Linked DNA regions of Homo sapiens. The protein of the gene in region 3 interacts with the protein of the main gene of each other region in a pairwise test. Each region holds a gene or a part of one and is shown on either strand. Other genes may lie near its edges.

Region 1 (7,018 bases), on a different chromosome or scaffold from region 3:
AGAAGCTCCTGAGCTGGTGAGGATCGGCGCGGCCCGGGGCGTTCTCTAGGTAGTGGGAGTAGCAGAACCACAGAAGCCAGCAGCCAAGCCCGTGCGGGGGTGAAAGAGGGACGGGGAGCCCAGTGCCACCCGTGGAGGCGCTCCTGACAGGGGCTCCACCCCAAGGTCATGGTGGGGCTGCGGTCGTCCCAGACTCCAGGACCAGAAGGGGCTCTGGTTTGAATCCAAGCTCACGGCCTTCAGGGGCTGCAGAGAATTCTAAGCCTGAGGGCTCACAACTGCACCTGCTGAACTCCCTTTACACCAAAAAGGGCCAGGGAGGGGACAGTTTGGCAGGGAGGTGGCGTGGTGGGGTGGAGGCTGGAGTCGGCACGGTTTGTTTAATTCTAGTTCTCTTGCTGTGAACGAATCATGCCACCTCTGAGCCTCGGTTCCCTGATCTCAAACGGGAAAGACGAATATGTAACCAAGCTGGAATTGCTGTGATGGCATGGCTGCTGTGACCTGGAGGGAAACTGCTGGCAAGACCACACCCCCCAACCCCCATCCACACACCCCACACCTCCACACCTCCTCACACCCTACACCTCCATACACCCCACACAGCTCCACACACCCCACACCTCCACACACCTCACACCTCCACACACCACACACAGCTCCACACACCCACCTCCACACACCTCACACCCCACCTCACACACCCCACACTTCTACACACCCTACACACCTCACCCCTCCACACACCTCACACCTCCATACACCCCACACACCCACCTCCATACACCCCACACCTCCACACACACTCCACACACACTCCACACCTCCATACACCCCACACCTCCACACACCCCACACACCCTCACCTCCACACACCCCACACACCCTCACCTCTACACACCCCACACACCCCACACCTCCACACACCCATACAGACTGCCCGAACCCAAATCCTGTCACGGTGGCGAGAACGCCAGACCAGAACGATGGCCCCCAGCTCAGGGTCGCCCTCCGTGTGGCTGGAATGCCCTACTCAGGCTGAGGGGGGCCTTTTCCTTTGGAAAAGCCTGCCAACTCCAGAGCCATCTCCGGGTGAGCCTGGGCCTCGCCTCTGCCCAGCCCTGGTGAGGCCGGGCACAGCATCCCACCCCCGCCCACCCACCCCAGCCCTTGCAGCTTTTCAGAGCAGAAGGGAGCTTTCCATTAGCCACGTGTCTCAGAAGGGGCCAGCCAGGCGACCCACCAAGAGCGTGTCCTTCCCAGGTAAACCCGAGTGCCACAGAAGGTTGCCAGCCCGGGCTGCCAACGAGTCTGGCTCCTCCCCCAGGGCAGGGGAAGGGCAGGGCGTGCAGAGCCCTGGGCTGGGGGCAGGAGCTCGAGGCCCACCCCTCCCTGAGCCCACCTCCTCGCCTGTGGGCTGGAGGTCGGACACGATCGGAAGCCACCCTTGCCGCATGCCAGGCGCTTCGAGTATTTCCTAGACCTCGCCAAGCCCCTCTGCTAAGCGGAGGCTCCGAGAGGACCTGCTGAGATGACACAGACACTGAGGGCCAGCAGGGCCACGGCCACCCTCCCTGCCCGCCACCACGCCCACTCAAGAGCGTCTGGACTGGCCACAGTCCACACTTCCACAGCCCAGGGGTGGAAGCAGGGCCAGCACCCGCTTGGGAAAGGTTCAGAACTTGACCATCACAGGCTGCTCCGAGCAGGTCTTGCTGTAACTCCCTGGACCTGCTGTGGTCCTAAAGCCCCTTCTTCTGTGGCCATGCAACGAGCAGGGCAGGGGTCACCGAGGGACCCCTCTCAAGCAGCCCACGTGGCGGCCACACAGGGCTGGGGGTCAGGGCAGCAGACCTGGGCAGCAGACCTGGGCCGCTGTCTGGGGGCCTTTCCCGAGACACGTGCTGGCCCTGGCGGAAGGGACGGTTGTCCCCGCATCCTGAGCCGGGCGCCGCCTCTCACCCACAACTTGTTGCTTACAAAAATCACAAAGTCCTCAAGAACAAGCCCCCTCATGCCAGCTGTGACTGGAGGAGAGGAGCTGAACTCTGGGGCTGCGGTGGAAAGTCAGCTTCCAGGGGCCGCCTCTGCTGCCGAGCGGGGGCAGGGAGAAGGGCCACTGAGCCCCTTCCCCCAGGAGTCAGGGAGCAGAGAGAAGGAAGAGGGTCTGTGCAGAAGAGTCAGAGGCAGCGAGGCCGGAAGGAGGCTTAGCAAAGGCCAGAGAGCTTTTGGGAACAAGAACTACCTTTCACGGACATTTTCCTCAATCTCTTAACTGAGCCGTGACTTTTGGAAGCCAGACGGGAGGCGGGAGGGCTGGTGGGCTGGGGTGCGCGGCTAAGACACACAGGGAGTCCAATGGCTGACATCAGAACACTCGTCATGCCTGCACGGGTGTGAGAGCAGACACGCAGAGAGGGAGAGACATTAGAAGACTCCTTCGGCATGTGACGCCAACAAACCCTGCTCAGGCCAAGGATGTGACACCATCAATGGCCACGGGGACGCACAGGTCTCCCTGGGGACTACCCAGGCCAGGAATCAGAGGGTGGGGCAGCCTGGCTCATGGTAGCCCTGGCCCCAGAGCCCACAGGTTTCTATAGGAGCAACAGACAAGCCCGTGCCCTCAGTGTGCAGGTGGGCACCGGGGCAGGACCCGTGACTTCAGGAGAGCAGAGGGCGGAGGACGCCACTCCAGGAAGCCGCCCGGGGCACGGGGTCTCCTGGGTGGGGCTGGCTCCAAGGGCTCAGCTTCCCCAGGAGGCCCTGGGCCCTCCTGGCTTGGAGTTACTAGGCCTCCAGCCTCCACTGGGTGCTGTGTGTGCTCCATGCCCCTCCTGGCTGATCTGGGTGCCAGGGCCTTCAGCGACAGCGCTGGGGTAGGCGGGCAGGAACGTGGCCCCTGGGCCTGCTCCCACACTGCAGCATCCCCATACTGTGAGGGCTGGGCTGCAGCAAGGCCCCAGGCTGTGGCTCTGGCGCCCTCGGGCAAGGGTGGGCCTGTGGCCAGCAGCTATGCTGGGACAGACCGGCCACTCTTTCCAGAGCTCACCACTGCCGGATGCCTGCAGGGAACCCCACACTTGCCCTGGGGGACTCTCCTCTGACACTGCTTCCTTCGTGCTCCCTGATGACCCAGCGCTTCCTGGGACACAGCGTGTCCTGCTGGACGAACCCGTTCCTGCCACACCCTCGGCCTACCCCACTTTCCATAGTGCCAGCTCCCCGGTCCTCCCTGTCATCGGTCAGTTAGGTCAAAAGCACCTCCTCTCCAGAGAAAGGGGAAGCCTAGAGCTTCTTAGCCATCTCTTAAGGTGGCTTCCAGGGTCTGCAGAACCTGGCTCAGGAGCTGGGCACAGCCGGCTGCCGGGGGAGTTGGTAGAAATCCCAGTCCTCCTGGACCCCACTCCCCATCCAGGAACAGATGGCGTGACTCAGGGGTGAAGGGCGGCCAGGCCAGCCACTGCGCCCCCACTAGAAGAACAAAGCTTCTCAACCCGGCACATGTGCCTGGCTGTGGGGACAGAAGCGGAGACCAGCCACCAGCCTGGGCAGCAGAGCCGAGGTGGGCAGGGTGAGTTGCAGTGGCCCTCAGCAGGAGACACCAAAGCGTGCATCAGAGGACAGAGGTTTGAGCCCGGGAGCTCAATGCCCCCAACATCCCAAGCTTGTTCCTGGGCTCAAATGCGGTTCCTGTGGGAACTGAATGTCGGGTGGAGAGAAGGACAAGCGGGCGCGGGTGGCAGAGAGATGAGAGAGGACAAGGACAGGTGCAGTTTTCCTCAAGAGAATCTGGTGCCTCTGCGCTGCCCACGTCGTCTGGGAGGACCAAAGGCCAGGACACGTCTCCCTACCCAGGGTTCTCCGGCAACACTGCCTCAGCGGGCAGGCCTTCCCTGAACACTGCCTGACGGGGCCTGTCCCTCCAAGCCTCCCGCCCCACCCTGCTGGACTCCTGCTTTGCACTCCCCTCTGTTTCTATGGACTGTCTTCCCTCAGCACGAGTTCCACGAGGTCCCACCCGTAGCTGCATCTCCAGCACCCCGCTGGGGCAGTGCCTGATCCCTGGGAAGCCTGCAGCCCTCTGTGTTTGCTGAGGAATGAAGACATCCTTGGGCCACCACCAGCCCCCAGGAGGCCGCATGAGTGACACACGTGTCCTTTTCAATGCAGGACCCACTCCCCTGAATTCAAGTCACAAACACACAAGTTTCAACCCAGAAGCCTGGAGAGGAGGAGGGCTAGGGACAGCCCCCCAAACTCCTGACAGCCCCCAAAACACCTGAATAACTCGGAGGGCCACAGCCTTTTTCTCCACCCATCTGGGAGGATTCCCGCTGTCAGAGCCCTGAAGAGTGAAGCCCCCACTCACTGATTCTCACTTCCAATTTGCAGACACCCCTCCTTCTGACACCCAGGGCCAGGGCTGAGATCCAAGCCTCTCCTCTGTGCGCTCTGACCTCCCCAGCCTGGGTTCGAGCCCAGTGCCAGCCCTCACCAGCTGAGCAGTCCTGGGCAGGCTGCTGACACCCATCCCTGCCCCAGGCAGCAGTGTGAGCTGTGGATGGACCGCTGCTGTGACCAGGTGAGGGGTGGAGACCCTGGCTCCAGCCTCACAGTCCCTGCCCCCACCCGATAGAGGGACTGGGCTATGCCACAGCCAGGGGAGCTGTCACCTGGAGGCACTGTCACCTGGAAGCAGTGCCTCCAGCACTCAGTCCTTCCAAAGCATGACCTCCTGGTTATAAACCTCTCTGCAAAAAGCCTGTGCGCAAACGCTCGTCTCCGCAGCCGGGCATGGTATAATTCCTCAACCCACAAGCACACCAGGGTGACAGGACACTGCTCTCCAGCTCTGGCTCCGGGGTGCTGGCCAGGCTCCTCTCATTCCCTGCTCCCCTAGACAATGCTCCCCCAGTAGGTACCAACACTGGGCCTTGAATTGGGGGAGGCAGGAGTCTACACAGCCTCCAGGCTCTCCTATTTCCTTAGGCCTGAACCAGCTTCCCGAATCTATTTCCCCACAAGTAAAATGGATGTTAAAATACCTGCTTTAGCTCCAGGATTGCTCTGAGAGCAACGGGGACAGACAACAGGATGGACAATTTGGGACACAGCCTGGACAGGACCTTCAGCCTCAAGAGCAGAGGAAGGGGGCAGGTGCTAACTCCACACCCAGAGCACTTAGATCTGTGTCATGGCCTCAGAGGTCGCTCACTGTCAGGCCTGGCCACGAAGGCTTGCGAGAGCCCCAGAACTGGAAGGAGCTGGGCCATGAGGAACCGTGTGGGGGCCCCGTCTGTTTACCCACAACCTGTCTCCAATGCCACCACGGCCGCACATGCACACACGGTACACTGTGATTTCCCTACGGCGCCGCACGGTGACTTCAGTGGGCAGGGACTTTCTGGCCAGTGTGTCTTGCTCATTCTGTCTCCCCTGCCCCACTCCAGCTCCTCTCCCTCCTGCCCCCACCTCTCTGGCCGCTCCTTCATTTTCTCTTCAGTCCTGCCCACGGTCTCTGTGGCACACACGCTCCCACGAGGGGTCAGGGGCACCCCATTCCACCCAAGACTGCTCTTCTGAGGCCCACAGCCAAATCCCACTGCCCCGGAACAGCTCCAACGGCCACTCCACAGCCATCACCCCCTCCCAACCTCCCCCTAGACTCAGCAGCACTGAACCGTCATAGGCAAGAAGGCCCGGGGCTGTGTCTCAGCTCTGCCAAGGGCTGGCAGAGAATTTTTAAATTCTCCGAGCCTCAGTTTCCTCTAATGAAAATGGGAACAAAAGCCTCCACCTCAGTGATTTAAGGACGAAATGAATTCACACACGCCAAGCCCCAGGCTGCTCCTCAGTTGTGACTGGCTGCACTCCAGCAGGCCTCAGTCTACCCCCAATCCCCCCTCACAACCCCCCGCCTGACGGCTCATGCCTCTGAATGTTTCAAGCCAAACCTCCCCCTCCACTCCACTGCCTCGAAGCTGGTCAGGCCTTGGCTGGTGCCCCCAGGTCTGAGGTCAGGCTCTGCACCAGCCGCCCTACCTCCAGGCCTGTCCCCTCTCAGCCACTATGACAGCAACTCCCCTAAAACACCAACTCATTATTGAATTCCGCCACATCACCCTGTGAACAACGATGGCGCCATCCACCTCCTTACATACCTCGAACTTTCCAGAAGTTAGAAAATAACCTCAGCTGGGCGTGGCAGCTCATGACTGGAATCCCAGCACTTTGGGAGGCCAAGGCATGAAGACGGCTTGAGCCTGGGAGTTCAAGACCAGCCTGGGCAACATAGTGAGACCCTGTCTCTACAAAAAATAAAAAACTTCCCTGGCATGGTGGCATGTGTCTGTAATCCCAGCTACTCAGGAGGCTGAGGCAGAAGGATCGCTTCAGCCCAGGGGTTGGAGGCTGCAGTGAGCTATGACTACACCACTGCACACCAGCCTGGGGAACAGAGCAAGATCCTGTCTCTTATAACAAGAAAAAAAAAATGGCCAGGCACGGTGGCTCATGCCTGTAATCCCAGCACTTTGGGAGGCCGAGGCGGATGGATCACTTGAGGTCAGGAGTTCAAGACCAGACTGGTCAACATGGCGAAACCCCATCTCTACTAAAAATACAAAAATTGCCCGGGCGTGGTGGCATGCACCTGTAATCCCAGCTACTCGGGAGGCTGAGGCAGGAGAATTGCTTGAACCTGGGAGGCAGAGGTTGCAGTGAGCCGAGATCCCACCACTGCACTCCAGCCTGGGCGAGAGAGACTCCATCTCAAAAAAAGAAAAAAGAAAAAAAATCCTGCCACCTGTGGAGCTTCTGAAAACCCTGCTAGCCAGGCTGCTAAAACAGAATGGGTGTGGGGGCCAGCAGTAGGTATTTTTAAGGATCCTTAAGGTGAAAGGATTGCTTGAGCCCAGGAGTTCAAGACTTCAGTGAGCTGGGTTAGCGCCACTGCACTCCAGCCTGGGTGACAGAGCGAGACTCTTGTCTCACAAAAAACCAAACCAAACCCAAA
Region 2 (6,902 bases), on a different chromosome or scaffold from region 3:
TGTGCATGCATGTGTGTGCATGTGTGTATAGGTGTGCATGTGTATGTGTGCACGTGTGTATGTGCACGTGTGTATGTGTATACATGTGTATGGGTGTATTTGCGTGTGGATATGTATGCATGTATGCACGTGTGTGCATATCTGTGTATGTGCAACTGTGTATGTGTGCACGTGTGTATCCATGCATATGTGTGCGTGTGTGTACATGTGTGTATAAGTGCGTATGTGTGTTCCCGTGTGTATGCATCTGTGTCTGTATTGTGTGGCATGTATGTGTCTATTGTGTGTGTATGCATGTGTGCGTGTATGCATTTATACATGTGTATGTGTGCGCATATATGGATGCATGCATGTTGCCTGCATGTGCACGTATCGGGTGTGTGTGCGTGTACGTGTACACGAATATGCATGTATGCATATATGTATGCACGTGTGTGTAAATTCTGCCGTGACTGTTTTCCTGTGGAAAGGCTGAGTGTGCAGGTTCTGTGCCTGTGGGGGGCTGTTCTTCACGTATGTGTTGTGTGGCTGTGCACAGGTTCTGTGCCTGTGGGGGGCTGTTCTTCACGTATGTGTTGTGTGGCTGTGCACAGGTTCTGTGCCTGTGGGGGGCTGTTCTTCACGTATGTGTTGTGTGGCTGTGCACAGGTTCTGTGCCTGTGGGGGGCTGTTCTTCACATATGTGTTGTGTGGCTATGCACAGGCAGACCATGCTATAGTCCTGTAGCTGTGTGGATGCGAGCGGAGGGGGTGGGGGGCCCAGGGGAGGCCCCCTCCCCTGAGCTCTACTCCTCCTAGGACATCCTGGACCTGGAGAACCAGCGAGAAAACCTGGAGCAGCCATTCCTGAGTGTGTTCAAGAAGGGGCGGCGGAGGGTGCCTGTGAGGAACCTGGGAAAAGTTGTGCATTACGCCAAGGTCCAGCTGCGGTTCCAGCACAGCCAGGTGGGGGCCGGGCTGGGTGGAGCACGCTAAGGGTGCAGCATCCCCATCAGCCTGGGGCTCCCCAGACTCCGCACTGACGACCCTGCTCCCCGCGCAGGATGTCAGCGACTGCTACCTGGAGCTATTCCCCGCCCACCTGTACTTCCAGGCCCACGGCTCGGAAGGACTCACATTTCAGGTGAGGCGGTGGGCAATGGGGTGGGGCCATGGCCGCCCTTCCCTCCATGGATCCCTGAAGCTCCTCCTACCCTGTGCCTGGCAGGGGCTGTTACCGCTGACGGAGCTGAGTGTCTGCCCGCTCGAGGGGTCCCGAGAGCACGCCTTCCAGATCACAGGTGTTTGGGATGCTTCCCGGGCCCCCAGAGGCACTCCTGACCCAGGACTTGGAGAGGGGCCTGCCCTGTGGCTGCGGAGCACGTGTGTGTATGTGTGTGCCCTCTCTGCCCTGCCCGCAGGCCCACTGCCCGCACCCCTCCTGGTGCTCTGCCCCAGCCGGGCCGAGCTGGACCGCTGGCTTTACCACCTGGAGAAGCAGACGGCCCTCCTCGGGGGGCCGCGGCGCTGCCACTCGGCACCCCCACAGGTCAGTGCCGGGGACCCCACCCCCCTCCCCACCCTGATCCTCGCAGCCGGCTCTGACCTCCTCCTCACAGGGGTCCTGCGGAGACGAACTCCCCTGGACTTTGCAGCGCCGTCTAACCCGGCTGCGGACGGCGTCAGGGCACGAACCCGGCGGCAGTGCTGTCTGTGCCTCGAGGGTCAAGCTGCAGCACCTGCCCGCACAGGTGGGTGGGAGGTGCGTGGGGCTGTAGGGGGATGGGAGGGGTGCATGGTGGTGGGCAGGGCGGTGCAACAGCAGCTCAGTTCCCTCATCGCCTGACCCCACCCCCACCCACCCAGGAGCAGTGGGACCGGCTCTTGGTCCTGTACCCAACGTCCTTGGCCATTTTCTCCGAGGAGCTGGACGGGCTTTGCTTCAAGGTGGGCCCCTCCCCACTGTGGGCCCGCCCCAGGGAGGCAGCTGTGTGGGGGTGGGAGGGGGCAGCCATGCAGGAGGAACCTGTATTTCGGGGCTTGTTGAGACAGAGCGCAGGGCCCTGCCCACCCAGCCCGCGGTCCTGGTCAGTCTGGTCTCCGCTGTGACATGGAGGAGCCCCTGCCCGCCCTGAGGTTCTCACCCTGAGGTTCTTGACCGTCACCCTGGGGCGGGCAGCATGGGGCTGAGAGCCCCTCCCGGGGACTCCCTTGTGTGTGCCTGCCCGTGAGGCGTGTGTGTGCACACGTGCGTGTGCGTGTGTCCTCCAGGGCGGGCTCCGGGAAGGGGGTGTGCACTCACGGTAACCTTCAGTCACTGAGGAACAAACACAGGGCCCTCCCCATGGTTCACCCGGCCCAACTTCTTCTCTGGGGACCCCAAGAGGCCAGTCCTGTGGCTTTGTGTGTCTGCCCCTAGCCGGCGAAGGCCCCCGCGCCAGGGTTGGTGGTAGCCCCAGGAGACATGGGACCCACTGGCCTCCCTCAGGGTGGTGGCCTCGGTGCCCAGCTCTCCAAGTACCCAGCCAAGCTCTGGAGGGCAAGAGGGTGGGATGAGGCCAGGCGGGGCCCCGGGGCTGCCCCTACAAAGGCCTGGCCCTCAATCTCTGCTCCGCAGGGGGAGCTCCCACTCCGTGCCGTCCACATCAACCTGGAGGAGAAGGAGAAGCAGATCCGCTCCTTCCTGATTGAAGGTAGGGCCCTGACCCTGGTTCTGCCTCCCGCCTGGCCAGGCCATGGTGGGGCGGGAGCCTGGGGGACGCCCGACTCTTTAGTGGGGGCGCTGAGGGGTGCACCCCCCCGCCAGCCCCTCACAGCATCTGTATGCCAGGCCCCCTCATCAACACCATCCGCGTGGTGTGCGCCAGCTACGAGGACTACGGTCACTGGCTGCTGTGCCTTCGCGCTGTCACCCACAGGGAGGGGGCCCCGCCGCTGCCTGGTGCCGAGAGCTTCCCAGGGTCGCAGGTGAGGGGTCAATAGGCCCCACAGCCCAGGTCCTGGGCAGTGGTAAAAAGGGGGCAGCAGACCGGGCGTGGTGGCGCACGCCTGTAATCCCAGCATTTTAGGAGGCTGAGGCGGGCGGATCATTTGAGGTCAGGGGTTCGAGATCAGCCTGACCGACGTGGAGAAACCCTGTCTCTATTAAAAATACAAAAAAATTAGCCGGGCATGGCGGTACATCCCTGTAACCCCAGCTACTCAGGAGGCTGAGGCAGGAGAATCGCTTGACCAGGAGGCGGAGGTTGCAGTGAGCCGAGATCGTGCCACTGTACTGCAGCCTGGGCGACAGAATAAGACTTCGTCCCAAAAAGATAAAAGGGGGGACAGCACGGTGGGTCCAGGCAGGGGCGGGTGGGGAGGGGGTCCAGCCCTCACTCACCCCCACTCACTGCCCATCCAGGTTATGGGCAGTGGCCGAGGCTCACTCTCCTCAGGCGGACAGACCAGCTGGGACTCGGGGTGCTTGGCGCCCCCCTCCACCCGCACCAGCCACTCCCTGCCTGAGTCCTCAGTGCCATCCACCGTGGGCTGCTCCTCCCAGCACACACCGGTGAGCGCTTACGGGGTGGCAGACGAAAGTGGGGCAGAAGGCTGTCGGGTAGGTGTGTGTTGGGGACCCTGGTTCCTCAGGGGAACTCAGACTGGAGGGAGCCCCTTGCAGCCTCAGAGAGTTGCACGGGAGAGGGGCCAAAGGGCTCTTCCTGGAAGGTTTGTGGTCCCCACAGGACCAGGCCAACTCTGACCGTGCCAGCATTGGCCGACGGAGGACCGAGCTGAGACGCAGTGGCAGCAGCCGGTCACCCGGGAGCAAGGCCCGGGCAGAGGGCCGCGGCCCTGTCACCCCACTGCACCTGGACCTGACCCAGGTGGGCCCAGCACACCCACACAGCCCCTGGCCTGGTTCCCACCGTTCCGCACCACTGGTCTCTGTCTCTGGGCCCAGTTGTCCTGGAGCCACCCAGAGGCCTCTTGCACAGAGAAGGGGTGGCCTAGGCTGTTTCTAGCCGAGAAGCCCATTTCTCCCACCTCTGCCCTGCAGCTGCACAGGCTGAGCCTGGAGAGCAGCCCAGATGCCCCTGACCACACTTCGGAAACATCACACTCGCCCCTCTATGCCGACCCCTACACACCACCCGCCACCTCCCACCGCAGGGTCACAGATGTCCGGGGCCTGGAGGAGGTCAGGCCCCTGCTGGGTGACAGAAAGGGTGGGAGGTGCCTGCAGCCTGAGGCTGGGGAGGTCTAGACCGTGCGTCTCACCCTGGGGTCTGGGGCTGCCCCAAGCCTGAGGTCTGTTCAGGCTCTGATGGGAGGTTGAGGTTCTGGGGGCCCCTGGCTGCCACCCAGGCCCCAGCCCTGGCTCTCCCTGCAGTTCCTCAGTGCCATGCAGAGTGCACGTGGACCCACGCCCTCGAGCCCACTCCCCTCGGTGCCTGTGTCTGTGCCTGCCTCTGACCCTCGCTCCTGCTCCTCCGGCCCCGCTGGCCCCTACTTGCTCTCCAAGAAGGGAGCCCTGCAGTCCAGAGCCGCTCAGAGACACCGGGGCTCAGCCAAGGATGGGGGGCCGCAGCCCCCAGACGCCCCTCAGCTTGTGAGTAGCAGCCCCCACGCCCGTGTGCCCCGGGCTCCGGGCTGGCCGGGGGTCTGGTGTGGGGCCTCTTGGGACTCTGAGGGAGCAGGGAGGGAAACAGGAGGACGGGGGCAGATGGAGGCCAGGGGGGCCAGTAGGGAGTTGGGGAGATGGGACTGGGGAGGGAGAGCAGGGGGACATGGGGGGCTGCACAGTGACAGGCCGCCTCCAAGCTCCCTGCCTGGGGCTGTGCCCGGCTCTCAGACTTGCGGTTTGGGGTTCCAGGTCTCCTCTGCCAGGGAAGGTTCGCCCGAACCCTGGCTGCCTCTGACAGGTGAGTAAGGATCCTGCCTCCTGAGGTGAGTGCCTGTTGCCTCCCACAGGCTGACACATCTCTGCCTTCCCTACCAGATGGTCGGTCCCCCAGGAGGAGCCGGGACCCCGGCTACGACCACCTCTGGGACGAGACTTTGTCTTCCTCCCACCAGAAGTGCCCCCAGCTTGGAGGGCCTGAGGCCAGTGGGGGGCTTGTGCAGTGGATCTGATGGCCGCGGTGAGGTGGGTTCTCAGGACCACCCTCGCCAAGCTCCAGGGTACCTGCCCCTCTAACCCACTTCAAATTACAAGTCAGGGTCTGAACCCAGTGTGATGGGGGGAGTCTCTGGGGCCCTGAGTTCAGAGCCCGTCCCTCAGCTCCTGTTCCTTGGTGCCAGCAGCTGGGGCAGGGAAGGGTGGGAGGGGCCCCATCCAAAGGATGCCCTGGCCAGCGAGGCTGGGTCACAGGTCAGGGAGGTCCTGGCCGTCCACAGGGTCGGCCCTCAGCTCAGCCCGCCAGGAGTCAGGGAGGAGACTCGCTGGGAGTGGGAGGGCAGCACGGGCGTGAAGGTCGGAGGACAGAGAAAGGTCAGCAGGGTCAGAGTATGTGAGGTCAGAGGGCATGAGGGTCACAGGTCAGCAAGGTGTGAGGAGCACAAGCCAGGGTGCCCCGAGGAGGAGGGTGGGTGGGTCCTTGTGTGGCCTGGCGCGCACCACAGGGCAGCACGGGAGACGTTGACACCACCGGACGAGAAAGAAAAAAGAGAGAAGAGAGAGAGGAGAAGAGAGAAAAGAAGAGAAGAGAGAAGAGAAGAGAAGGAAAGAGAGAGAGAGAATAAGAAAAGGAAGAAAGAAAAAGAAAAGATAGAATTTTATTGGTGCTGCATCCATGTGTTCTCTGCTCAGCAGCCAGGGTCTCCCACAGTCTTGAGGACCCCCACCCAGCACCCAGCCAGGCAGCCCCCTTCCTCTGCCACCTCGGGCCCCTCACCGACCTTCCCACCTCATCTCTGACTCCTCTTGGCTGTGGGTCCCCAGCTGCCCCACAGGAGCCCCCGGGACAACCCCAGGAGCCCAGCCCTCCATCTGAGGCCACCGAATTCTCCCTCTGCACCTGCACCCAGGGCTCCCGGGGAGGGGCTCGCGGCTCTGCCACAGACCCCCACCCTGCAGGGGCTGCTGCACTGGGGAGGGGCAGGCAGAGCCTTCGCTGTCTCAGGCCAGAGCCCGCAGAGGCCTTGGCCACAGTCCTTTGAGGATCAAGAGTGATGGGCCTTGGAGCCCTTGCCAGCCCAGCCCACCTGTGAGGAGGCTGCCCATCCCCTCTTTGAGGCCACCCTGTGTCCTCTCCCCTGCCTCTGCCCAGAGCTCCAGCCGGAGTGTCTTGCTGCTCAGACCCCTCCGAGGTCCAAGTCCTGTCCTGCCACTCAGCTCCCCCTGCACCCCAGAAGAAACGCAGGGTGCGGTTGCATTTGATTTCAGATAAACAACAACTTCTTAGTAAAATGACCTCCCCACTATTGCCTGTCTGAAATTAACCGAATGCCCTGTGTTCTCATCTGTGAATCTGGCCACCCTCCTACCCAGCCACCTGCCTGCCCTCCACCCACCCAGACTTTAGCACCTCCCTCCCAGGCGTGGGGAGTGGCCGTGGTCACTGGCTGGATCCTCAGGTGAGTCGGAGGGAGCAGCACCAGGACACGCCCCCCTCCTGGACGCGGTAGAAGAGAGGGGTCAGAGGGCCCGGGCGAGGGCGGCACCTCGTCCTGCCCTGGGCGCCTGTGGTCGTCTCCTCATCCTGCATCTCCCTGGCCCGGGCCTGGCTCCTAGGAGCTGGGGCTGGGGCTGTGGCTGCGGCGCCCTTGCCCCACCTGCCGGCGGAAGTAGCGGATGGCAGAGATGGTGCCGACGTTGGCCAGCAAGGCTGCAAGAGAAGCACAGGCTCTTCTGAGGGCCAGCCTGGCTGTCGGCACCGTCTGCCCGCAAGACCCAGCCCTCAAAGGGCGGGCAAGGTCGGTGCGGCCAGGGCCGCAGC
Region 3 (7,018 bases):
CAGCACAGGCCATAGAGGACCCCTTTACAGGACAAGAAACTGAGCGTGGAGAATGAAGTGCCTATCCATCGTGTCATGGTTCCTCAGAGGTTCCAGCCGAGCCCTTCCGACTCCAAATCTGGCCCTAGCTCCTCCACCCCTGCACCCACCGCCCCAGCTCACCCCTCCTTTTTCCAGCCACCCTGATAGTGATGTCACACTTCTCTGCTTCAATGCTCTTTATTTCATTAGGAAAGTAGCTGGGCAGGGGTGTTCCCCTGGGGGATGGAGTGGGGGTACAGACAGTAGCCTGGCTCCTGTCCCCTAGGATTGACAAACCTGTAGAGGAGAAGCAGAGGCGAGGCCTGAGCAAGGGGCTCTGGGGTGGTTCTGTGTGCTTGCCTGGCAGAGAAGGGGTTCTGAGAGGCCCCCTGATCTGTCACCCCCCACTTGGAAGGGGGGTCCCCAGGCAGGACTTGCTTAACCCAGGGCTTGAGAGGCAGGGCTGGCCCATAACGGTTGCCCACACAACCAGAGCAGCTGAGTGTGGGGATCCCCAGCCCCTTACCAAGGGCTCAGGGCTCAGCTGTGTGCCACGCAGCGGCTGCTGTGAGGTGTGTTCTGGTAGAAGGGGTCAGCTGAGGTCAGGGTTCTGCAGGGAGGCAAGAGGAGAGTGTTGGGGGTGTTGGCAGGCAGGGCATGGACCTTGTCTTCTTGTCTTCTGCCTGACCCTCCCTGAGAGAGCATAGCCAGGGTTCAGCCAGGGCAGCCAAGCCACAAACATTCTTTGCCTGCCAACTCTGGGCCATTGTTGATATAAATGTAATTTCTGAGGAATTGAATTGAGCAGAAAGGAGCTGAGTGAGGCCGAACCACAGTCCATTCATCTCTGGATCCGTCCCCGCATCCCCCTCTGGATCTGAACCACCCCAGAGCCCCTTGCTCAGATCCTCCCCATCCAGTCCACCGGGCCTGGGGAACAGGGGCAGGAGAGGGAGGAGGAGCCATCTGAGGGAGGGGTCACTGGAAGGAGAGGAGGGGAGGAGCCTGTGCTAGCAGGAGAAGGGACACCAGAGCCAGCCAGAGGAGATGGGCCTCTCATAGGAATGAACCGGACTGACAGCAAGAGAGGAGAGGAAGGGAAAGGCCTGGCACACGGCCTGGATGAGGGGTAGGGAGAAAGAACAGAGCTGGGGGTGGTGCCACCTTCCCACGTGGGGATGCAGGTGCCGCAGGCTCTCCATGGGGTTGGGGGTGGCCTCCATGCAGCTGACCGGCTGGCTGAGGGCGTAGCCTCCTGGCATCTGGGGCTGGATGCCACCTCGAGTCCAGCCTTCCTGGTCTAGACCCTTGGGGATGTTCTCAAAGTACCTGGAGGAGAGGAGGGGTCCTTGGCTGGAAGCTGGACTCTGCCCACCTCTGCAACCCCTGCTGCCCTTCTCCATCGACCCTCAGATCGCCCAGCCTCCCCACCTTTGCTCATGCTGTCCTCGTCTAGCTCTCCCTAAGCCCACGTCCACTGGGGGAACTCTTACTCAAAAAGCCTGCCCTCCCCTCCACCTGACGCTGAAACACTCTTTGGAGTGTTAAAGGACAGTTTCAGTGATGCCCCTGTCCCTGGCCTGCCAGTACCTTGGGGTGGGGACCCCGTCTCATCCACTTCTCTAGGCACTTAACTTTCCTTCCATTTCATTTCCATTTCCTTCCATTTCACTGAGCACAGCCAGGTCCAGAGGGTGCAAAGACAAGTAAGAAGGGGGTCCCACCCTTGAACTTATGAAGAGGGGGTGCAGACAGATCAATGCAGGAATCAGTGATGACAATCCCGGGGCTCTGCGCGCACCAGGAAGCACCAGCAAGCGTGCCTGACAGCCAGCAGGAGCTCAGGACACAACAGGACACGACAGGCTGGAAGGACCCAGCAGACAGGACTGGAGCTGGTCTCTGCCAGAGCCACAGGAGGAGGTGTTTGCCTAAGAAGGGGTCAGAACATCGTTGCCCCTCCCCCACCTCCGTGGGAACTGGAGCGGCCACTGTGCTGAGTCTGCTGTGCGGGCGGAAGCTCTGCTCCTCCCCTCTGAGCCTCAGGGTTTAGGCCAGAGGACAACAAACGGCCCTTCCAGCTCAGACTCTCTGTTGCTCCTCCAGGACACCGCCCTCCCCTCTTTTCAGTCTCAGTTCAAACGTCACCTGCTCAAGGCCACCGATTTCAAATCCGACCCGTGCGCACTGCAGCCCTCGCGATCCCTTTCTCTTTGCGCATTACCTAACAGCTCTCGCTAACTGGCTGCAGCCACATGCATGTCTCCTCCCATGCAGAGGTCTGAGCTCCGTAGGGCAGGAGCTGCACACACATTCCCAGGGCCTGGAGCAGGGCTTGGCACCCAGTCAGGGCTCAGTTAAAGTCTATTCCATGAATGGATTCTGGGAGGTATCCCGGAGCAGGGGGTGGGGCAGGGGGAGGAGACAGAGAGGTGGCAGGGACACCTTGAAGGACCAGGAGTTGGAGAGGAAGCAGGGTGGACACAGGTGACTGATGTTGTGAGGAAAGCTTGCGCTTCCTGGCTCGGAGTTTGTCCTAAGAATTATACTTCCTGGAGGCGGGCAGATCACGAGGTCAGGAGATCAAGACCATCCTGGCTAACACAGTGAAACCCTGTCTCTACTAAAAATACAAAAATGTAGCCGGGCGTGGTGGCAGGCGCCTGTAGTCCCAGCTACTCGGGAGGCTGAGGCAGGAGAATGGCGTGAACCCGGGAGGCGGGGTTTGCAGTGAGCCGAGATCGCACCACTGCACTCCAGCCTGGACGACAGAGAGAGACTCCATCTTAAAAAAAAAAAAAAAAAAAAAGGAATTGTACTTCTTGGCAGGACACGGTGGCTCATGCCTGTTATCCCAGCACTTTGGGAGGCCAAAGCAGGCAGATCACTTGAGGTCAGGAGTTCAAGACCAGCCGGGCCAACATGGCGAAACCCCATCTCTACTAAAAATACAAAAATTAGCTGGGCATGGTGGCACATGCCTGTAATCCCAGCTATTTAGGAGGGTGAGACAGGAGGATCACTTGAACCCATGAGGCGAAGGTTGCGGTGAGCTGAGATCACGCCATTGCACTCCAGCCTGGGCGACAGAGTGAAACTCCATCTCAAAAAAAAAAAAAAAAGAAGAAGAAGAATTACACTTCCTTTATACCACTCCTATAATGCTTTCCCCACCCAGTCCTGGCCCCAGGAGGCTTCCCCATGGCTCTGGGGCCACCTCCTTCCTGGAAGCCCTCCCTGATGCCCAGGACAGTCACTCCTAACCCAGGGAATGCACAGCACAGAATTTACCTTCTGAGGGAGCATCGAGCCCACCAACCATTGGCTGGATGGAATGTCTTAGCAGATGCTGCTGCTCCAGACTCCCTCGCACTGCCCTGTTCTTTCCATGCCCACCAGCCTGGCCACCAATGCCCTGCATCTCTGTGGGAAAGCTACCCTTGGGATGCTAGAAGCTGCTTTGCCTGAGCAAGGAGGCACCTGGGCTTTAATGTTGCCCTGGGGATAGCCTTTAACCAATGACCGATGGATGTGGGGGTATAAATACCCCAGCTCTCTCACCTTTGACTGGGGTAGTTCTGAGTTGTGTGCTTTACACTGTTTTCTAGAGTTTTCCCAGTGGGATAGCTGGCCTAGTAACATGCTCATTATTGCTGCCTTCCCTCCCTCATCCCTCTTCTCCACTCCCACACGCCTAATAACTGCCTGATAACATGCTTGCACTCCAATCCTTGGCTTAGGGTATGCTTCTGGGGAACCCATATTCACTCAGCATTGATCTTCTCCACGAGGCTGTGAGCTCATTACTTATCCCAGTCTCAGTCTGTTTCTCAAATGGGTTTCAGCTTTGGACCAGGAAGCGGACCTCACCCTTGGTTGTAGGTGGTCAGGTATCGCTGATCCCTGTCAGGATCACAGGGGCTCCGGACATACATGGGGTTGTTAAGGCTGAACCCTGTGGGCTCCTGCACAAGAGGGGTAGACAGGGGAATTGTCAAGTCAGAAGGGGTGGGGATTTGGGGGTGGAGGCTAGGTGTAGCAAGTCTCACCTTTTTCCCCACAGTCTCCCGGCCAAGCAGGGCAACGTTTGTCTGTTGCATCCGATGAAGTGGCTGAAACTGCTGGTGACTCACGCTGCTGGGTTCTGGGCAGGGAGGGGGCACCTGCAGGGCACAGAACCACCAGAAGGGAGGCTGAGGTGGCCAGCCTGAGGCAGCAGGGATGGAGAGGGGAGCAGGCAGAGGCACACACAGCTGTGACCTGTCCACAGCCCCAGCGACCCTCCCTTCCCCTTCCAGCCAATTCTATTTCAGACCACACCCCTCATCTTCCAGCCCCCAGGAAGGCCCAGGCTCTCTTCACCCTCCACCTGAGGGCCTACCTCCACATCCCTAAATATCCTAATTCTTCTCATTCTTCAATGCCTGACCCAAATGCCACCTCTTCCCAGAAACCTCCCTGTCTTCTCCCTTCTCTGAGCAAGACGCCAAGGCCACTCACTCTGGGGTTCAGAATCCTTTCATTCCCTCGGCTGAAGGCTGTTTCCCGCTTGGAGCCTCTGGCCAACACAGGTAGGAACTCATCTCCCTGGAGGGAGCAAAGCAGCCACTGGCACCAGGATGTGGCTGCCTCCCCCACCACCTTCCAGAGCCATGTTCTAACTGCTCCCCGCCAGGCGGTCCCCAGCCTCCCCCTAGCTCAGCTTACATGTAGGTGAGTCTTGGGGAGGAAGTCTGACTTGGTGACACTCTGGCCTGGGAGGAGGGCCTGGAAATAGGCCCACAGAGGATGTCAGCCCCGCAGAGGCAGCCTGGGCCCCTGGTGGCTCCCACCCACTCTGCCTCCAGGCCACTGCTGTGCTGAGCACAGAGGAGGACTCAGCTCAAATGGGCATCACTGAGAAAAGGGAAGTGTTTGGGGAGAAGACAGGGGAAGGCATGACTCTGAATGGGACCAGCAGGCCAGGGCTCTTGTCTGAACTCTGAATGACATTGGCTACACCTCCTTCATCTCTTTGGACCTCAGTCTTCTCATCTATAAATGGGGGACTTGGACCAAAGCAGTGGTTTTCACCTAAGCTCTTTCGTCTTGTGTTTGAACAAAGGGCTCTGCAGCTCACATTCTTTAGGAAAGCTAGAAACCCTGAGACTGGAGGGCTTCAAGCCCCCTAAAGTTCTAGCAGGAGCCCAGCCGACTTACAGGGTCCCCAGGGAGGGCCTGTGAGGGCGGTTGGAAGACAATGGGGCTCTGGTGGGACTGTTTGGTGAAGCCACTCCCCTCCTTTGCGCCGATCGATTTCTTCTGCAAGAAATCTGCAAAAGAAATGCCCTGTGTGCTGCCAGGCCACCTGGCCCACCCATGTGTCCTCCAGAGGCTCAGTGTCCCAGCAGGTGCAGAGGGAGTGGATCCCAAGATCCTGGAGACCTGCGCCATGAGGATCGTGGGTGGCAGGGTGAGGATTCCAGAGTCCAGGCCGGAGGACAGGAGAGGGAGCAGCAGGAAGGGCATGCACCGGCCAAGCCACCCTCCTGAGAGGCCCAAGGTACTGAGGTCAGCCCGGGAGAGGCGCTTCCCTCCAGCCACCTGTGCATCCTTCTTTCTTCCACTGGTGCCTTCTCAGTCCTAGGCCAGCTCCAGGGCCCCTGGGGTAGCAAGTAGGGAGGTGGATTGGAAGATGGGAAGGGAGCTGTGAGTTCAGACAGGGCCTACCTGGCTGGTCTAGAGGGTCCCTGAGATACTTGGAATTGTACTCCGACGTCATGAAGCGTGGGCCCTGGAACAGAGAGGTTGGAGGAGTGGGGGCACTGACCCACCAGGGCCCCGAAGGCGTGTGGCGGCGGTGGAGTGGCGCCTCGGTTCTCTGTGCTCTGAGGAAGCCTGTGTGGGCCAGTACAGCACCCTGGACACAAGTCTCTGTGGGGTGGGACATCGCAGGGCCAGGAATTTCAGCACAAAGCACAGTTCCCCTGTGACTATGAATACCACGTCACACCCCACACCAGACTCCTGGTAATGAGTGGGGGGCCCAGAGGGACCGAGACCAGGAGGGGCCGTGAGCAGGAGGAGGAAGGCTGGGGGAAGAGGAGTAGCGTTAAATCGCGAGAAGCCACATTGAGGCTATTTTGGAAATAGCCAATATCAAATCCTTTGCTCTCCCATCTTTCTTGGCGCCCTGAGCCCACCCTGAGCTGGCTTCTTGGGTGAGTCAGTGCAATACTTGTCTTGAGGTGGGAGGAAGAGGCGGGTGTGGCCCCTCTGCCCCACCCCGAAGCCCTTAGCTGGGCTGCCACTCACATGTCGGAAGTTCTCCCGCTCCAGCGGGTCCTGGCCCTGCTGCTGGTGGAGCAGAGGCACTTCCCTGGGCTCCAGCCCCGTGATGGCCTGAGGCCCGTGCTCCTGGGTGTCGAAATGGACCTTCCGGACCTGGGAGGAAGAAGGGCCAATTACAAGTGAGGGGGCGGCAGTCACTCCCTGACTCTGCTTCTGCCCTTGACCTTTACAGAGCGCAGTATCTGCAGAGCAGCCAGAGGGGGTCCTTTTACAATGAAACCTGCATGTCCCCTCTCTGCTTAGAGCCCTGCAGCCTTCCCATCACACTCGCAGGGAATTCCACGTCCTCCTGGTGGCCTGCAAGGACCTGAGTGCCTCACCCTGCTCTAGCTGCTTGTCTCCTTTCTGTTCCCACCTTGAGGCCTTTGCACTTGCTGTTGGCACTGCCTGGACCACTCCTCCCTCAGACAGCTGCAACTGGAGGAGCTGGCCTCCCTCAAGTTTTTGTCCAGTGTCTCCATAGCAAGCTCTTTCCCGACCCTCCCGATTTGCAGTTGCAACTCCTTCGCTTCTAATTTATTTATTACTTACATTTTTTGAGACAGAGTCTCGCTCTGTTGCCCAGGCTGGAGTGCAGTGGCATGATCTCAGCTTCCTGCAAACTCCACCTCCTGAGTTCAATCAATTCTTGTGCCTCAGCCTCCCAAGTAGCTGGGACTACAGATGC
Region 4 (7,873 bases), on a different chromosome or scaffold from region 3:
GTAATCCCAGCTACTCGGGAGGCTGAGGCAGGAGAATCGCTTGAACCTGGGAGGCGGAGGTTGCAGTGAGCTGAGATGGCGCCACTGCACTCCAGCCTGGGTGACAGAGACTTCGTCTCAAAACAAAAACAAAACAAACACTATTTAACTAATGTACAATTAAAAACATTTCAGTATTTAAAGTTTCTAGCGTCCTTAAAAAAAATTTTTTTTAATTTATCGCCTAGGCTAAGCACTGTTGAAAAAATAAAGGAAAACAGACTTCACAAGGATCTCCGTGCTGAAAGCAGCCTTCAACAGGAAGGTCCCTGGAGAATCAGCTCCTTCCAAAAGATCAGGGGATGAAGACTTCAAGACCGCAACTGCTGCTGTCTCACCCCTAGGCAGGAATGGACCACCCTCCGCCCTCCACCCTCCGCCAGCAGCCCACAGGAAGCAAGTAGAACCTGATACCACCTCCCGCCAGTCTGTGAATATATAATCTGACTTGTATTTTCCCTGTTTTCCCATTTTGCATACTTCAGAATAAAGACATCTGTTCATAACACTATTAGGAACCTTGTAAAAAAAGAAAAAAATCAACCAAAACAAAACCTTGATTTCTTAACTTTAAAAGTGCTACATAGGGGCCAGGCGTGGTGGCTCACGCCTGTAATCCCAGCACTTTGGGAGGCCAAGGAGGGAGAATCACCTGAGGTCAGGAGTTCGAGACCAGCCTCGCCAACATGGCGAAACCTCAACTCTATTAAAAATACAAAAACTTAGCTAGGCGTGGTGGCGGGTGCCTGTAATCCCAGCTATTCAGGAGGCTGAGGCAGGTCACTTAAACCTGCACAAGGCAGAGGTTGCCGTGAGCCAAGATCAAGTCACTGCACTCCAACCTGGGTGACAGAGCGAGACTCAGTCTCGATGCTACATAAATGAGCCTGCACATAAAAACTTTACTGTCTTAAAATTAAAATAAATACGTAAACATCAAGAGACGAAACATCCCAGATATATTCTACAGCGTGAATATTCTAACAAGCTCTCTGTGTGGAAAGCAACCGACCACTACAAAACGCTTCAAAACCTGGCCGGGCGCAGTGGATCATGCCTGGAATCCCAGTACTTTGGGAGGCCAAGGAGGGAGGATCGCTGTGCCCAGGAGGTTGAGACCAGACCAGGCTACAGCAAGAACCCTGTCTCTATAGAAACACAAAACAAGGCACTTGGCCAGAGGTTGGTTCTCATGCAGGAACTGTGTCAAATCAGAGTGGGAAACAGCTAGGCACAGTGGCTCACACCTGGAATCCCAGCACTTTGGGAGGCTGAAGCAGGAGGATTGCTTGAGCCCAGAAGTTCAAGACCAGCCTGGGCAATGTAGTGAGACCCCATCCCTACAAAAACTATGCAAAATTAGCTGGCATGGCATGAGCCTGTAGTCCCAGCTACTTGGGAGGCTGAGAAGGGAAGATCACTTGAGCCTAGGAGTTGGTGGCTGCAGTGAGCCGTATCCTATCATTGCACTCCAGCCCCAGCGACAGAGCAAGACCCTGTCTCAAAAAAAAAAAAAAAAAAAAAAAAAAAAAAAAAAAAAAAGTGGGGCCGGGTACGGTGGCTCATGCCTGTCATCCCAGCACTTTGGGAGGCCGAGGTGGGTGGATCACCTGAGGTTGGGAGTTCGAGACAAGCCTAACCAACATGGAGAAACCCTGTCTCTACTAAAAATAAAAAATTAGCTGGGCATGGTGGCACATGCCTGTAATCCCAGCTACTCCGGAGGCTGAGGCAGGAGAATCACTTGAACCTGGGAGGTAGAGGCTGCAGTGAGCCGAGATCATGCCATTGCACTCCAGCCAGAGCAACAAGAGTGAAACTCCGTCTCAAAAAACAAACAAAAAAAAGTGGGAGGTGAAGCAAAATTGGTTTGAGTCACACAAGGGTTACCCCTAAAACACACATAATCCCTCGGGAACTGGCCTGAGAATAGGAAATGCCGCCCCAGCATCCCTGGTCACTAGAAAATTTCAGCGTATAATTACGACTCCCTCTGCAGGGGCCAGGTATGGACACTAAGGCGTCCGCTGAGGGTCCCGGCCGCATCCCCGGGTGGAGGCCCCCCACCTCCGCCCAGGCAGCGGCGCCCCCTCGCGGCCGCTTACTCGTCGCCGTCGGGGCACACGCCGGTGGCTTCGTTGTACTTGGAGCAGTACACGTCGGGGCTGTAGTTGAAGGTGCCGTCGCGCCTGCGGAGGGGCCTGCGGCGCCGCTGGTTGAGGAAGTGCCAGTGGAAGCAGGTGAACGGCCGGTGCTGCGCGCACTTGTGCTGTGAAAACAGGGGGCACTGCTCCGTCCTGAACTCCTTCAGGTACCTACAAACACAGACAGCGCCGCGGCTCGCTTCCGGCAGCACCTCCAGGGACTCGGACTCGTGGGCGGCGGGACCCACCGGCCTCAGGAGCCTCAACCCAGGGTCGACCCGTACTCACATTCCCGGCGGGCCCCAGGCGCTGCGCCCACCCCCATCCCGACTCCAGACGCGACCCTCACCCGACCTCGTAGCCCAGGCGCTGACCCTGGTCCCCAAGCCCAAGCGCCACCCCGGACCCTGGGCGACCCGCTGTGACCTCACGGTCGGCAGCCGGAGCAGAGGGTCCCGGTCCCCGAGCCCAGGCGCAACCCCCAACCCCGGGGCGTTCCTCCCTCCCCAGAGGCGCGTGGACCCCGGAACCAGGTGCCATCCCAGACCATGGGCGCCGCGCTCCGACCTCAGGCGGAGGCCGCCGAGAGCAGAGGGTCGTGGCCCCCCCAGCCCAGGCGCTGCGCGGAGGCCGGGGGGCGCGGGGGCGGCGGAGGCGGCGCGAGCCCCGGCGGGAGGCTCCGAGCTGCACCGGGCGCGGGCGGGGGGCCGCAGGCCGGACGGGCGCTGACCTGTAGTGGGTCGGCTTCTCAGTCTGCGGGGGGGACCCGCTCAGCGCCGCTGCCGCCGCTTTCGAAACCGACGGCATTTTCAGTCAAAACAATGCAGCGCGCATGCGCCGCGCCGGCGCCCCCGCCCCCGGATATCCCCGCGCGCCCCCGCGGCCACGCCCCCCGCGGCCCCGCCCCCAGCCCGCAGACCCCGGCCCCGCCCCAGCCCCGCGCCCCCCGCAGCCCCGCCCCCGGCCCGCAGACCCCGCCCCAGCCCCGCGCCCCGCCCTGCCCTGCCCTGCCCTGCCCTGCCCTGCCCTGCCCTGCCCTGCCCTGCAGCCCCCGGCCCGGGACGCTGGTCCTGCCCGGGGCCGCGCGTGGGACCCGCGATGGTCGCCCCTGCTGTGACATGACCCGACATAACCGTGTATTTTACATGAATTAATCACAAGAGTTGTATCTCAATAGAGCTGCTCTTCCACAAACGAACCAAGAGGCTGATGTCAGGGGGAGCCAGGCACCGGGCGGAAGGGCCAAGGGGTCCTGGCCTTTGTAGAAAGGAATTTGTTCCATTTCGAACCTTGACCTCAAAAACTTATACTCAGAGATTTATCTACAAAGGTAATTATCACAGTTATTTTGCAAACACTTGAGGTCCCCCTTCCCCCAACAGCGCAGTAGCTGAGAAAAGGGAAAACTCTAAGTGCTCTGCGTGATTTGAAACAGTGCTTCCGAAGAATTTTTAGTGGTAGGAGGCCGGGCGCGGTGTCTCACGCCTGTAATCCCAGCACTTTGGGAGGCCGAGGCCGGCGGATCAGCTGAGTTCGGGAGTTTGACAACAGCTTGGCCAACAGTGAAACCCCGTCTCTACTAAACATACAAAAATATTAGTGGGGTGTGGTGGCTTGCGCCTGTAATTCCTGCTACTCCGGAGGCTGAGGCAGGAGAATGGCGTGAACCCGGGAGGCGGAGGTTTAGTAGTGAGCCGAGATTGCGCCACTGCACTCCAGCCTGGGTGACAGAGTAACACCCTGTCTCAAAAAATAAAAAAGAAATTTTTAGTGATATGAAAAATGTGCCCATTGGCCGGGCGCGGTGGCTCACGCCTATAATCCCTGCACTTTGAGAGGCCGAGGTGGGCGGATCACGAGGTCAGAAGATCGAGACCATCCTGGCTAACACGGTGAAACCCCGTCTCTACTAAAAATACAAAAAAAAAAAAAAAAATTACCCGGGCGTGGTGGTGGGCACCTGTAGTCCCAGCTACTCAGGAGGCTAAGGCAGGAGAATCACTTGAACCCAGGAGGCGGAGCTTGCAGTGAGCCGAGATCGCGCCACTGCACTCCAGCCTGGGCAACAGAGCGAGACTCCGTCTCAAAAAAAAAAAAAAAAAAAAAAAAAAAAAACGAAAAGAAAAATGGGCCCATTTAGGTTGAAAGCAAATCACTTCCTACAGATTTGTTCCAAGTATCTCAGGGTTTTTTTTAATATTAATACTGTAAAACAACAAAAACTATCATTTGCTGGTAGGATAAATTTCTTCATAGGTTCACATTTTCTTTTTCTTTTGGCGGGGGGCGGGGGGAGGAAGGAGTTTTGCTCTTGTTGCCCAGAGTGGAGTGCAATGGCACGATCTCGGCTCACTGTTGCAACCTCCGCCTCCTAGGTTCAAGGAATTCTCCTACCTCAGCCTCCTGAGTAGCTGCGATTACAGGCATGCACCACCGCGCCCAGCTAATTTATTTTTCGTAGAGACGGGGTTTCTCCACATTAGTTAGGCTGATCTCGAACTCCCGACCTCAGGTGATCCACCTGCCTCAGCCTCCCAAAGTGCTGGGATTACAGGCGTGAGCTACCGCGCCAGCCAGGATCACATTTTCTTAATGAATTATCTCTACAAACATTACATTTAAATCTTAAAATGATAATGAAGAACATATTTTCAAGTGAAGTCAAGCAGGAAAATGAAGTCAAGCAGGAAGGGCAGGGCCTGCAAATTCTTCAGAGACGAATAAACAGATCTTGAAGACTCCCAAGGTGCTAGGAATGGAAAGGGAGTCTAGGGTGACGCCCAGGTCTCTCGCTTGCAAGGATACAGAGCAAGGGAGAAGAAACAGGTTTGGGGGAGATGAATTCCATTTTGGAGTTTAAGGAGCCTGTGAGCTGTCCAGCAGAGGTGTCTAGGGAGCCTGCTAAAGCTAGGAAACAGATTTGGAGCCTTAGGGTTTAGGAATTTGGGGATCTTTGCTGTAAAGGTATGAGTGAAGACACCTGCTGTTCCTCCACACCCTGGGGGCATCTTCCTTGAAGAAATCAAAGGAAACTGATGTAAGACTTAAGGATTGAAAGTATCATGTTTTTTCATGCTTTGGAAGAAATGTTCTTTAAAGTCTAGGGTGGTACCTGAGTTATATAGACAGTTCATCAGCTTAGACGTGACCATTTGGTTAACACCTTCCTTGAAAGAATTTTTTGTTTTTGTTTTTGAGATGGTTTGGTTAACATCTTCCTTGAAAGAATTTTTTTTTTTTTTTTTTTTTCTGAGACAGAGTCTCACTCTGTCGCCCAGCCTGGAGTGCAGTGGCATGATCTCAGCTCACTGCAAGCTCCACCTCCCGGGTTCAAGCCATTCTCCTGCCTCAGCCTCCTGAGTAGCTGGGACTACAGGCGCCCGCCACCACGCCTGGCTAATTTTTTCTATTTTTAGTAGAGACGGGGTTTCACCATGTTAGCCAGGATGGTCTCGATCTCCTGACCTTATGATCCGCCCGCCTCGGCCTCCCAAGGTGCTGGGATTACAGGCATGAGCCACTGCGCCCGTTCAAGAATTTTTGTTTTAAAACAATTTCCGGCTGGGTGCAGTGGCTCACACCTGTAATCCTAACACTTTGGGAGGCCAAGGTGGGTGGATTACCTGAGGTCAGGAGTTCAAGACCAGCCTGGCCAACATGGTGAAACCCCGTTTCTACTGAAAATACAAAAAAAAATTGCTGGGCGCAGTGGTGCACGCCTGTAATCCCAGCTACTCAGGAGGCTGAGGCAGGAGAATTGCTTGAACCCGGGAGGCAGAGGTTGCTGTGAGCCGCGATCGTGCCACCACACTCAAGCCTGGGTGACAGAGCGAGACTCCGTCTCAAAAAAAAAACAAAAAAACAAAAAACAATTTCCACCTCCTGCCCAGCCATTTGTCATCTTAGGAATCGCTGCAGCTGCGTCTGTTCTAGCATGCTTACAATGGTCTCCCTCTCAAATGCTTATCTGGGGAGGTCAGTGTGCCATGTACCCTGGGGAAAATAAAAGCTACAGCCCAGTTGGGAAAACAAGACAAACACACTACAAAAATAGTTAAATACAACTGGGCGCAGTGGCTCCTGCCTGTAATCCCAGCACTTTGGGAGGCCGAGGTGGGCAGATTGCCTAAGGTCAGGAGTTCAAGCCTGGCCAACATGGTGAAACCCTGTCTCTACTAAAAATAGAAAAATTAGCCGGGCATGGTGGTGCACGCCTGTAATCCCAGCTACTCAGGAGGCTGGGGCGGGAGAATTGCTTGAACCCCGGAGGCGGAGGTTGCAGTGAGCCAAGACTGTACCATTGCACTCCAGCCTGGGCAACAGAGCAAGACTCCATCTCAAAAAATAATAATAAATACTAACTGTACTGAATTAACTGTTCACCTATCAACCTGCTCTGTTGCCATCCTTTGAAAACTCCAGGAGTAGGGAAGATCCGCCCACCATCCCCAGCTGGCCTTGGGTCTGTCTACGGCACAGGTGTGAGGTCAGCAACTGGAAAAGCCCTCCCAGATCGCTGCCCTGGAGGCACTTGGGATCTGCTGCATGTCTCTGAAACATGTATAGGTATATATGTATGAAAACAATTGACCGGGCGCAGTGGCTCATGCCTATAATCCCAGAACTTTGGGAGGCCAAGGCGGGCAGATCACTTGAGGTCAGGAATCTGAGACCAGCCTGGCCAACATGGCGAAACCCCGTCTCTACTAAAAATACAAAAATTAGACGGGTGTGGCGGTGCGTGCCTGTAATCCCAGCTACCCTGGAGGCTGAGGCAGGAGAGTCGCTTGAACCCAGGAGGTGGAGGTTGCAGTGAGCCAAGATGGAGCCACTGTACTCTAGCCTAGGTGACAGAGCAAGACTCAATCTCAAAAAAAAAAAGAGAAAACAATCTGGGGCCGGGCGCGGTGGCTCCCATCTGTAATCCCAGCACTGTGAGAGGCCGAGGAGGAGAGATCACTTGAAGTCAGGAGTTTGAGACCAGCCTGGCCAACATGCCAAAAGCCCGTCTCTACTGAAAATTTAAAAATTATCCGGGTGTGGTGGCACAAGCCTGTAGTTCTAGCTACTCGGGAGGCTGAGGCAGAAGAACTGCTTGAACCCAGGAGACAAGAGGTTGCAGTGAGCCAAAATTGTGCCACTGCACTCCAGTCTGGGAGACAGAGTGAGACCCTGTCTCAAAAATAAAAACAAAACAAAACAAAACAAAAAAACAAAAAACAATCACTTAGGTAACCCAAAATAGTGCCCATCATTTGTGAAAAGAAATACTCACTAGTTGTATTCTACTCAGAAAATGGTTGCCTTGCTTAAAAAGTTTTGCAGAAAACTGCAAAAGTTCCTCATTTCTGGTACTATTCGGTAATATATATGTAGGTTTCTTTCCTCAGTTCCCACTCTGGAAAAAAAAAAAAAAAGGAAAACGAAACTTTTTTTTTTTTTTTGAGACGGAGTCTCGCTTTGTCGTGCAGGCTGGAGTGCAGTGGCGCGATCTCGACTCACTGCAAGCTTCGCCTCCAGGGTTCACGCCATTCTCCTGCCTCAGCCTCCGGAGTAGCTGGGACTCCAGGGGCCCGCCACCACGCCCGGCTAATTTTTTGTATTTTTTAGTAGACACAGGGTTTCACCGTGTTGGCCAGGATGGTCTCGATCTCCTGACCTCGTGATCCGCCCGCCTCAGCCTCCCAAAG

Evidence for each region.
Region 1: the proteins of SAXO4 (region 3) and DTX2 interact in binary tests that used the Homo sapiens proteins (3 or more experiments, as listed by UniProt).
Region 2: the proteins of SAXO4 (region 3) and PLEKHN1 interact in binary tests that used the Homo sapiens proteins (3 or more experiments, as listed by UniProt).
Region 4: the proteins of SAXO4 (region 3) and UNKL interact in binary tests that used the Homo sapiens proteins (3 or more experiments, as listed by UniProt).

The regions. Positions count from the first base shown.
Region 1 is NC_000007.14:76,492,705-76,499,722, reverse strand, and holds part of DTX2 (probable E3 ubiquitin-protein ligase DTX2), read right to left. Parts: intron 2,387-7,018; coding exon 2,246-2,386; intron 1-2,245. UniProt on the Homo sapiens protein: Regulator of Notch signaling, a signaling pathway involved in cell-cell communications that regulates a broad spectrum of cell-fate determinations.
Region 2 is NC_000001.11:969,479-976,380, forward strand, and holds the end of PLEKHN1 (pleckstrin homology domain-containing family N member 1), read left to right. Parts: intron 1-798; coding exon 799-945; intron 946-1,042; coding exon 1,043-1,123; intron 1,124-1,207; coding exon 1,208-1,280; coding exon of another isoform or gene 1,281-1,400; coding exon 1,401-1,528; intron 1,529-1,598; coding exon of another isoform or gene 1,599-1,634; coding exon 1,635-1,730; coding exon of another isoform or gene 1,731-1,741; intron 1,742-1,845; coding exon 1,846-1,926; intron 1,927-2,596; coding exon 2,597-2,672; intron 2,673-2,809; coding exon 2,810-2,946; intron 2,947-3,382; coding exon 3,383-3,532; intron 3,533-3,707; coding exon 3,708-3,848; intron 3,849-4,021; coding exon 4,022-4,162; intron 4,163-4,354; coding exon 4,355-4,573; intron 4,574-4,837; coding exon 4,838-4,886; intron 4,887-4,963; coding exon 4,964-5,097; 3' UTR 5,098-6,387; downstream 6,388-6,902. Other genes in the region: PERM1 (PGC-1 and ERR-induced regulator in muscle protein 1), read right to left, coding at 6,694-6,791. UniProt on the Homo sapiens protein: Controls the stability of the leptin mRNA harboring an AU-rich element (ARE) in its 3' UTR, in cooperation with the RNA stabilizer ELAVL1.
Region 3 is NC_000011.10:61,484,114-61,491,131, reverse strand, and holds the end of SAXO4 (stabilizer of axonemal microtubules 4), read right to left. Parts: intron 6,445-7,018; coding exon 6,316-6,444; intron 5,795-6,315; coding exon 5,731-5,794; intron 5,334-5,730; coding exon 5,221-5,333; intron 4,789-5,220; coding exon 4,729-4,788; intron 4,609-4,728; coding exon 4,522-4,608; intron 4,185-4,521; coding exon 4,071-4,184; intron 3,987-4,070; coding exon 3,892-3,986; intron 1,351-3,891; coding exon 1,186-1,350; intron 632-1,185; coding exon 562-631; 3' UTR 548-561; intron 319-547; 3' UTR 204-318; downstream 1-203.
Region 4 is NC_000016.10:1,411,702-1,419,574, forward strand, and holds the start of UNKL (putative E3 ubiquitin-protein ligase UNKL), read right to left. Parts: upstream 3,004-7,873; 5' UTR 2,991-3,003; coding exon 2,914-2,990; exon of another isoform or gene 2,751-2,913; intron 2,355-2,750; coding exon 2,145-2,354; intron 551-2,144; exon of another isoform or gene 228-550; intron 1-227. UniProt on the Homo sapiens protein: May participate in a protein complex showing an E3 ligase activity regulated by RAC1. Ubiquitination is directed towards itself and possibly other substrates, such as SMARCD2/BAF60b. Intrinsic E3 ligase activity has not been proven.